2 linked regions of the Homo sapiens genome follow. The protein of the gene in region 2 purifies or fractionates together with the protein of the main gene of each other region. This does not show direct contact. Each region holds a gene or a part of one and is shown on either strand. Other genes may lie near its edges.

Region 1 (4,100 bases), on a different chromosome or scaffold from region 2:
ACTTCCTTGGTGGAGATTTCTGTCCTTTGTGAGGCATCAGAAATTGTTACCATCTCTGTTTTTACCACTGGTGGCTGAGGTGGAAAAGGAAGGGAAAAATAAATTCTAGAGGTAATAAAGTAAAAGTGTTTAATGGAACCTTCACAAATAATAGTAAGAAACATATCCAAACACACACTCATGCACAAAAGAAAAGAGTAAAAGCAAACAACCTAAAACAAACAAAAGAAATAAAAGAAAAATTTTCCTTCAAATATATCATATATACACATACATACATGTGCACATAGATACGTACATATATATGAATGTGTGTATGTGTACATACACATATATGAAAAATAAGTTGACATGATGGCTTCCTAAATTATGTTACTCTTTAAATTAAGATGGTCCCAAACTACTTTTATGTCAAGCCTAGTGTATAGTGACACACACACACACACACACACACACACACACACACTCTCTCTCTCTCTCTCTCTCTCTCTCCTCCTCCCTCCTTAGCTTTGGGCAAGTAATAATAAATTGAAAAGAAAATAGAATGAACTATGTGAAGTGACTTGTCTCTATTTTTATTATAATTTAAAGGACCACATAGTTTGTGTGAAGGCTCACTGCCTTTAACTGGCATGCCAGCTAGGTAGGCTAAGATTTGTTCTTCTGCCCACAATACCTTTTCTGCCTTATTGTTAACAGACACACCATTTTCAGAAAGGATGTCTTCAAGTATTACTGTTTTCAGTTATACCTGTCTAAAATTTGCAGTGTTTCTTCTGTATTACCTAAGTTAAAATGCTCTATCTAAAATTACTCCATCAATGTTACACCAATGCTTTGAACAATTTAAAACATTAAAGGAAATATTCAACGGCTTATTAACATTTTAGTCTGCCGAGTATGCATGCTTAATATTAATGCAACACCAGACTATACTACTACCAAAATACTGCAGTACTTTCTTTGAGAGAACATTCTCAACAGGCATAATTATTTAAAGAGGAGTAACGATATGTTAAATACAGAATAGTTCAAAGTGTTCAAAGACTCTTGAAAAATCTTCTCTAAAGTGAAACAGAAGTTTAAAAGTAACATGGTTAAAATCCACTTAATTATTTTAAGACAAAGTCACTTCAACATTTTCCATCCCATCGAAGAGAACAAAATAAATCTCTGTACTGTGGGCATTTAATATTAAAATCAAGAAATATTCCCAAGGAAATAAACCCTCCCTCAGCCTAACTCCCAAATGAGAGACACTGCACTTAGTGACCAAAAAGTTCTCTTCTTTGAAAAGAAAAAGATTCATGTCCAATGTATAGATAATCCACAAAACATATAATCATCTGGCAAATACTCCAGAATTGACATCAGGATAGAATGAGAAGCGAGGATATCCTCCTATCAAATAGCCTAGCCTCTGGCTGCCTGGAAGAAAAGAAAGGCTCTTAACAAAACCATACAACCCCTGCAATCCCAAAACAGAAATCACAGTGGCATTCAAGAAATAACATTCTCATCACTGCTGGATACTGCATTCAGAGAACCACGGTAATCAGAGACTGCTGTCATTTCTAAAACTCTGAAGCTGAAGAATGAGCCAAGAAGTCAAACCCAATCATGACATCAGGGGCACACACACTCAGCAGTGACCATTTTTTTTTTCAACATTACATATACATTTTTCTAATTAAACCAAAAGGGGAAAAAAAGGCATTTAGTGTGAGGAAGCAGTGCAACTGAAGACAAAACAGTTGAAAACACCCAAAACATGCAAAGAAAAATTTAAATGTGAAAAGGGAAGGAAAAATTGATGTGGTGCTTCTAGGAAAGTTTACCCTACAGGTGTCCAGTGGCCGCAGAGAAGCTGGAACCCATGAACTGGGCGGGCAGAAAATCCACAAAGCAGTGCTTCCCCCTTCCTCCCATGAGAGAGAAAAATCAGATTCTTGTTGAAAAAAGCTGAAGAACTGGGAGGACAGGAGAAGAAAGGCAGGAGTTCCCCATCTGAGAAGCAGCTCTAGAGTTTGGCTCCCACCTGGGACTCCCATTTACCTCTGAACAACAAATAATTTGTGGCAAAACATCAATGTCAACATGGGACACCTCTCCGTTAACTTTCTGTGGCTCTTCCTCTGCTTCTTCTCCCATGTCTTGCTTAAGAGCGCCTTCGTGTACACTCTTCTCTCCGGGTATCTTTTGGGCACCTACATTTTCCTGGATCACTGTTTCTACTGTGATTACACTGGCACCTGCTTGTGTGACTGGGCTGGCTTCGGGCACTGCTTCCTCCCTCTCTACTACCTTGGCTGCCGGGCGGGGTTCTTCCTCCACCTCTTCTTCATACTCCTGTTCCTCCCTGATGGTGCCCTCGGTCACTCGGTGGTGGGGACGGTACTCTCCCACGTCTTCCTCCTCACTCTCACTGCTGCTGCTGCTGCTCTCAGAAGACAGGGAGGTGGAGTCTTTTTGTGTCACAGGCTCCACCTTACGAATCTCCCCAGGACCACTCCCAGGTGATATCTCTTTACCATTCATTTCTTCTGTGATTACTCTTTCGTCTTTCCCAACCTCTGCCCGCTTCTTCTCCTCCACTATATTCAGAGTCTCATGTGAACTCTGTACAAAAAAAGATGGATGAGGGAAAACAAAAATATATGAATAAATAAAAACAACGGAAACCCAAATTAACCGATGGCAGATTCATGTCATGGAGAAAAACAAAGATGATTATGATGGCTGACTGAAAGGGAAGCGGGGCAAACGTGAGGGCAATGAGAAACGTGAGGCAATGGTGTTAACATGGAAAAAGGGGAGAACCTTAACAGCATCCCTGGCTCCAGTGCAAGGCCCTTCTGACTCGGGAGCACGTGTCTGCAGAACAAAAAGCAACCGAGGACACAAAATCAATACAGTTTTACCTCAACAACCACTGAAACAAACATCTGACACTGCAAAGACAAAACAGCAAGAATCAACATCTACAGAAACCTCTGCTCAAGGTCACATAGAGGACAATCAAGACAAATGCCAAAAAGCTTACAAAAAGACACAAAAACAGCCAGCATCCTCCCAAAGAAGTAAAATGCTTTTATTATAGATATACCTATAAGCTCTACCTATGTAGTTAAAACAGTTTACAAAAATTGAATTATACCAAAGCTGACTCATCATTTTAAAGAAAAAAATTTAACTTTTAAAACCTAGTAACAGTTTTGGTTTTAATCAGACTATAAAGTCTAGCCTGGAACGCTGATTCTTAAATGAACACAGCACCAAGGAGATGGCACTTTTATTTTTTGCTGGTTTTCTTTAAAAAAAAAAAAAAAGTTTTAATTGGCAAAATTATAGTTAGCCTCAGAAGGCTATTAACATGAAAATGTTCATTCCAGAAATGGTTATTAACTTTCCAATTCGTATCATAGGTTGGCAAAGGCTATATTATACAATAGGGTGGGTGTCAATGGTGACTCCAAGTGTTTCCTTTTACAATTTAGCTCCTCTACTAGCATCTTTGAAATCTAAACTCAGTCAAGTTTATTATTTGACATGTTCACTCCTATCCCCTTCAGACATCTACTTCTTGGGAGTAAAGTAATTTACTCCAGTTGAGTAATATAGCACCTAAATGTTCAATAAATATCTGTTGACTTAATACATTAGGAACAAATTACTATGTTATGATATTATTAACTAGGGTGGAAACCTTTTTGTACAGAGGGGTTTTTAAAGCTTCACATTTTTCTCACACTTACAAAAAGTCTGCTTTACAATGATATAACTCAAGCATGGCCAACTTTTTGACTTCTAGGTGGTACTACTGCCTATGATCTAACTTAAAAATAATTCAGCTAGAGCCAGGAGCCCTATTTATTCACGAAAGTGACTCCATTCTGGATGGAGAAGGGCACCACACCACTGAGCCCTCTGGATATTGTTGTGAAGCTGCCAAGGTACTAACTGGACTGGAGCCTCTAATAGACAGCAGGGCTGAGTTCATCTCTCCCAGACACTTGGACAACCATGAGCTGAAGATCCTAACATCACACACACACGTCTCTGCAGCACTGTCAACGTCTACTCACAAACTCTCTTGGACC
Region 2 (5,423 bases):
TGCAGCCTTCATTTGGCCCATGTTGATTCATATAATGGACCAGAAGGAGTTGGAACCAGGTGATGGACCAATTGCAGTGATTGTGTGTCCTACCAGGGAGCTTTGCCAGCAGGTATGTGCTTTCTATAGAATGCCTCCTTCCATATGTGGACTAGCAAGGGACCAGCCAGTCAAGTGAGGTAGAATGACCAGGAAACTTTTTTTTTTAATTGTGATAAGATACACACAAAATTGATTATCTTAACCATTTTTAATGTACAGTTCAGTGGCATTAAGTATATTCACAGTGTTGTGCTACCAGGAAACTTTTGGAAAGTATTATGTGTTAAATATTTTCTATATAACCAAATACATATTTTCCCCTAAAAACTACTGTTTTTATTTATTTTTATTTATTTGCTTTTTTTGAGACAGAGTCTCACTCTTTTGCCCAGGCTGGAGTGCAGTGGTGTGATCTCAGCTCACTGCAACCTCCACCTCCCAGTTTCAAGCAATTCTCCTGCCTCAGCCGAGAGGCTGGGATCACGGGCACACGCCACCACACCTGGCTAATTTTTTTATTTTTAGTAGAGACGGGGTTTCACCATGTTGGCCAGGCTGGTCTCAAACTCCTGACCTCAAGTGATCTGCTTGCCTTGGCCTCCCACAGTGCTGGGATTACAGGTGTGAGCCACTGTGCCCGGCCAGAACTACTTTTTTTAAGAGGAAAAGCCTATTGTGATATGGGGATTGTTTGTATTATAAGCTGACAGTTTTTCTGTAGGATGAGTTCATTTTATCTTGGTAGAAAAGCAGTGACAGGATCAGGAAGAGAAGGGGGTAAAATGAATAAAAGATTTTAGATAATCTGTTGAGATGCAATAATGGTATTCCATTCATTTATACCTTTATGAATAAAATCGTGGTTTTAAAGTATGTTCTAGGTTTCGATTTTTTATGACATCACATTCTGTTTTTCAGAACTTCGTTTGGGTTGTGACAGGTATTTGTTAGTGTCACAGTTTGTTAATATATTATTCACAACTTTGTAGATCCATGCAGAATGTAAGCGGTTTGGAAAAGCATATAATCTTCGATCAGTGGCCGTATATGGAGGAGGGAGTATGTGGGAGCAGGCCAAGGCCCTTCAGGAGGGGGCAGAGATTGTTGTGTGTACCCCAGTAAGTATGCCTTGTGTTTAAATGGCTTCTCAGCCTCCCTCGGTATGGAAAACATGATTAGTTTTGCAGAGAATTTCCCCTAAAGTGTGGTAAAAGCAGGGTTGAAAATATACTGATGAACGGCAGGCTGTGGTTTTAATTTTGATTGGTGGCTAAATTAGCAGTTCAGTGAGAGTCTCTGTGACATATAGGCTAGTAGCTACAAATTCCCCTCTATGTCAAATAGTTTTTCTTATACTCTCCCACAAAATGATTGCCAAGTTCATCAAGAATCAGAAAGATACATATGGTCAGAATAGCCTAGAAGAGTGTAGTTTAAACATTGAAACCTGTCATTATGCTTTAAATCAGGTCACTTTAGAATGCCTCAAAAACTGCTTCTGGCCACTTTCCCACAGAATTTAAATCACAGTGTAAATGAAGATGCCGATTGAGTTTTCAAAATTTCTGTTCCTTTGAGCTAAGTAGTGCATAAGGTATGTGGCTGTTGGACCAGTATCTATTACAGTCTGAGACTAGAGAATTAGCACTTTTGCCAGGAGTGCAACTGCTTAGAAAGTCCCTGTGAATGCCTTTAATTATACTTACTGTTCATTTTGTTGATCTTATAGGGTCGACTGATAGATCATGTGAAAAAGAAAGCTACCAATCTTCAAAGAGTCTCTTACCTTGTGTTTGATGAAGCAGATCGAATGTTTGACATGGGATTTGGTATGCCTTGAATACCAGTTTCTTCTGTCCCCATCCTCATGATACTAGTTTTTTTTCCATGTCTTTCTAGACTGTTTTTTCAGCATGAGAGAAGCTAAAAATACTCCTGGATGGGGTTAGACTATAGAAATATAGCTAAGATGAACATTTTTAGGAGTTTTCTCTGGAAAAGTATGTTAGGTTTTATTGGGTTGAGGAAATTTCAAAGTGCCTTTGTATATAAGGGGAATATTTTCTCTGTCTTCATTTTTATCCATATGCCTTTGATCATAGAGGTTAAGGTCTGTGTTCTTGGGTAGATGAATGTCAGATCATTCGAGGCCCTTTGCTTTCCTATCCTCGTAGCTGTCTTTACTGATTGGAACACTGCTAGACCTAGCCCAGTTGGATGGAGGGAAAATTTTTCACTTTTATGCTGAATGATATGTTTAGGAGCTTCTTTTTTCTTGAGACAGAGTTTTGCTTTTGTTGCCCAGGCTGCAGTGCAGCGGTGCGATCTCACTGCAACTTCCTCCTTCCAGTTTCAAGCGATTCTTCTGCCTCAGCCTCCTGAGTAGTTGGGGTGATAGGCACCTACCCCACAGCCTGGCTATTTTTTTTTTTTTTTTTTTTTGGTATTTTTAGTAGAGATAGCTGTGTTGACCAGGCTGCGAACTCCTGACCTCAAGTGATCCGCCTGCTTCGGCCTCCGAAAGTGCTAGGATTACAGGCATGAGCCACTGTGCCTGGCCTGGGGTTTCTAATTTTCTTAATTCTTACAACTTCTTATGAAGACTTTTACTAATATGGCTTTTTCCAGGCTTCCCAAACTGTATTTCAGGTTATAATAATTTTATTGTTCTGTTTCTTGCAGAGTACCAAGTTCGATCCATAGCAAGTCATGTTCGTCCTGACAGGCAGAGTATGTATGAAGCACCTTTGTTAAACCAAATTTGTACTAAAAAGGGCACTTATTTATTTTATAAGCACTCAGAGTTATGGAAGTAAAAATGATCTTGTGTCTGTTGGTGAGAACCATAATAAGGGAGGTAATGAGTTTATCTGAGCTGGACAGGATCTTAGCACTAGATATAACTTGTTCCTTTTTATAGATGATAAAACCAAGGATCAGAAATTAAATAAACTGCCCTAAATTATACAGTTTTATCAGTGGGTAGAAGCAGTGTACAGTACAGATCTGCTGATTTGAAATCAAGAGTCTTTTTCTGAACCATACTGACAACTTGTCTTAACTAAAAATGTAATAAAAATAGAATAAGAGCAAATCTTTCCCTAGTGAATCAGTTTCTAAACTAAATTTAAAGTTCAGGTGAGCTTATGTAAAAAAACTGAATAATCCTGAATGCCAAAGAAGCTTAATGGGTATGCATAAAGATATCATATTGTTTCTCTAACAGAATTTATCTTACCTTTTAGCTCTCTTATTTAGTGCAACTTTTCGGAAGAAGATTGAAAAGTTGGCCAGAGACATCCTGATCGACCCTATTCGAGTGGTGCAGGGAGATATTGGAGAGGTAACCCTAAGCAGGGCTGGATGGGACCTTAATGGGTTTATTTCTCATATTATGGAACACAGAATTAATTTCTCACTATTGAGATAAAAAAAAAAGATGTTATGTTTATAGATGCAACATGCTTGAGATTGGGTATTTTGCAAGTTGTGGGGATAGACGTAACAAGACTGGCAAAATGTTGGGAATCATTGAAGCTAGGTGATGGGTATGAGTTGATTTTGTTCATTTTGTGTTTTTTTTGTTTTATTGAATGTCTCAAAACTTACAATTGTTTTAAAAAGGCTTCAAAGAGACAAAAAGATGTGCCTGGAAGCATCAGCGTATTAGGTTGGAACTGACGTTTTAATTATTGTGGTAGGGGCCTACGCAGGAGGGAAAGGGTGACCTGGAAGGCCTGGAAAAAATCAGGTTTCATTTCTTACCTGTACATATGCGCTATGTGAAAAATTACTCTGAATTGGGACTTGGAATTCAGTTATGGCTGCTTAGAGAATCCTTCAGTTGCTTGCCATGGTTATTGTTAAGGAAAGCTCTACAAAGTAGTGGGGCATACAAATTAGGTATGTACACCAGGTGGAGAGCAAGGTGATTGGAAAGGAGAGGTGAGTTTTGAGCTGCACTTGACTTGCTGAAGGCCCAAGGAGAACTGGGATTGTTCAAGGTCTTCTCGATGCAGGTAGAAATATAATGCCTAGTCCTTGTTCAGGTGCCCTGTGGCTCCAATGTCACAATCATCTGTTTCATTTCTTCCTTCTCAGGCAAATGAAGATGTGACACAGATTGTGGAGATTCTCCATTCTGGACCTAGTAAATGGAACTGGCTTACCCGGCGTCTGGTAGAATTTACCTCTTCAGGGAGTGTCCTCCTCTTTGTTACTAAAAAAGCCAATGCTGAAGAGCTAGCGAATAACCTTAAACAGGAGGGTCATAATCTTGGGCTGCTCCATGGGGATATGGATCAGAGTGAGAGAAACAAGGTCATTTCAGACTTTAAGAAAAAGGACATCCCAGTCCTGGTGGCCACAGATGTTGCAGGTAGAGTATGAATTTTTCAACAACATTAAGTTCCTAGGCTATAAGGGTACTCTGTCTTACTACATAAGACCTATAATATCTGAGCAGGCTGATGGAAAGACTGTTGGCCTGGCTGGCCATCCCCTCCCAAACCCCCAAGGAAGCAGCAGTTCAGCACAGGGATCACAGTCTGGAGCTCTAGATACCACTTTTCACTTAGTATTTCTCTCTAATCAAAGAATCCCTGCAGCTAGAAGTCACTCTGGGAAAAAAGGCAGTGAATGCCCTTATTGTATGTCTGAATATAGTAGATACCTTACCCTTACATTGATCTACTATACACAGCTTAGTTGGGCAACTTAACTCAGGATGAGAACAGTTTTTGGAATATAATTTCTGGATTTGTTCTGTCAAGTTTTAATAACTACCCTTAAACACTGATATTTTTTCCTAGAAAGGAGAGAACTTCTCAGCTTCATGACACATTTTAAATATATATTCCCAGTGCAAGAGAAGAGGGCATGGCAGATTACTGATGCAAAAGATAAAAGTCCCAGTCGGGCACGGTGGCTCACACCTGTAATCCCAGCATTTTGGGAGGTGGAGGCGGGCGGATCACCTGAGGTCAGGAGATCGAGACCATCCTGGCCAACATAGTGAAACCCCGTCTCTACTAAAAATACAAAAATTAGCTGGGTGTGGTGGCGCGTGCCTATAATCCCAGCTACTTGGAAAGCTGAGGCAGGAGAATTGCTTGAACCAGGGAGTCGGAGGTTGCAGTGAGCCGAGATCATGGCACTGCACTCCCGTCTGGCAACAGAGCAAGACTCCGTCTCTAAAAAATAAAAGTCCCTTACACTAGAAGGCCTAACATCATAGAATCTGTGGTGGTGACTTAACATGCCTGTATCTCAGCTCACCAAACCCATGCGCTTTGCCTAGATAAAGGAAATGTGGCTTATTAGCACTAGCATTTCTGGTTACTTTGATCTTCTGACTACAGATGAAGAATAAAAGAATTTGG

The links. Proteins that work in one complex are often made in the same cells at the same time.
Region 1: the proteins of DDX42 (region 2) and EPB41L2 purify together in Homo sapiens (affinity purification with mass spectrometry, with the first as the bait; one large-scale study listed by BioGRID). This does not show direct contact.

The regions. Positions count from the first base shown.
Region 1 is NC_000006.12:130,867,508-130,871,607, forward strand, and holds part of EPB41L2 (band 4.1-like protein 2), read right to left. Parts: intron 2,875-4,100; coding exon of another isoform or gene 2,821-2,874; intron 2,620-2,820; coding exon 2,056-2,619; intron 75-2,055; coding exon 1-74. UniProt on the Homo sapiens protein: Required for dynein-dynactin complex and NUMA1 recruitment at the mitotic cell cortex during anaphase.
Region 2 is NC_000017.11:63,807,789-63,813,211, forward strand, and holds part of DDX42 (ATP-dependent RNA helicase DDX42), read left to right. Parts: coding exon 1-112; intron 113-1,031; coding exon 1,032-1,160; intron 1,161-1,771; coding exon 1,772-1,871; intron 1,872-2,724; coding exon 2,725-2,772; intron 2,773-3,287; coding exon 3,288-3,385; intron 3,386-4,143; coding exon 4,144-4,420; intron 4,421-5,423. UniProt on the Homo sapiens protein: ATP-dependent RNA helicase that binds to partially double-stranded RNAs (dsRNAs) in order to unwind RNA secondary structures. Unwinding is promoted in the presence of single-strand binding proteins.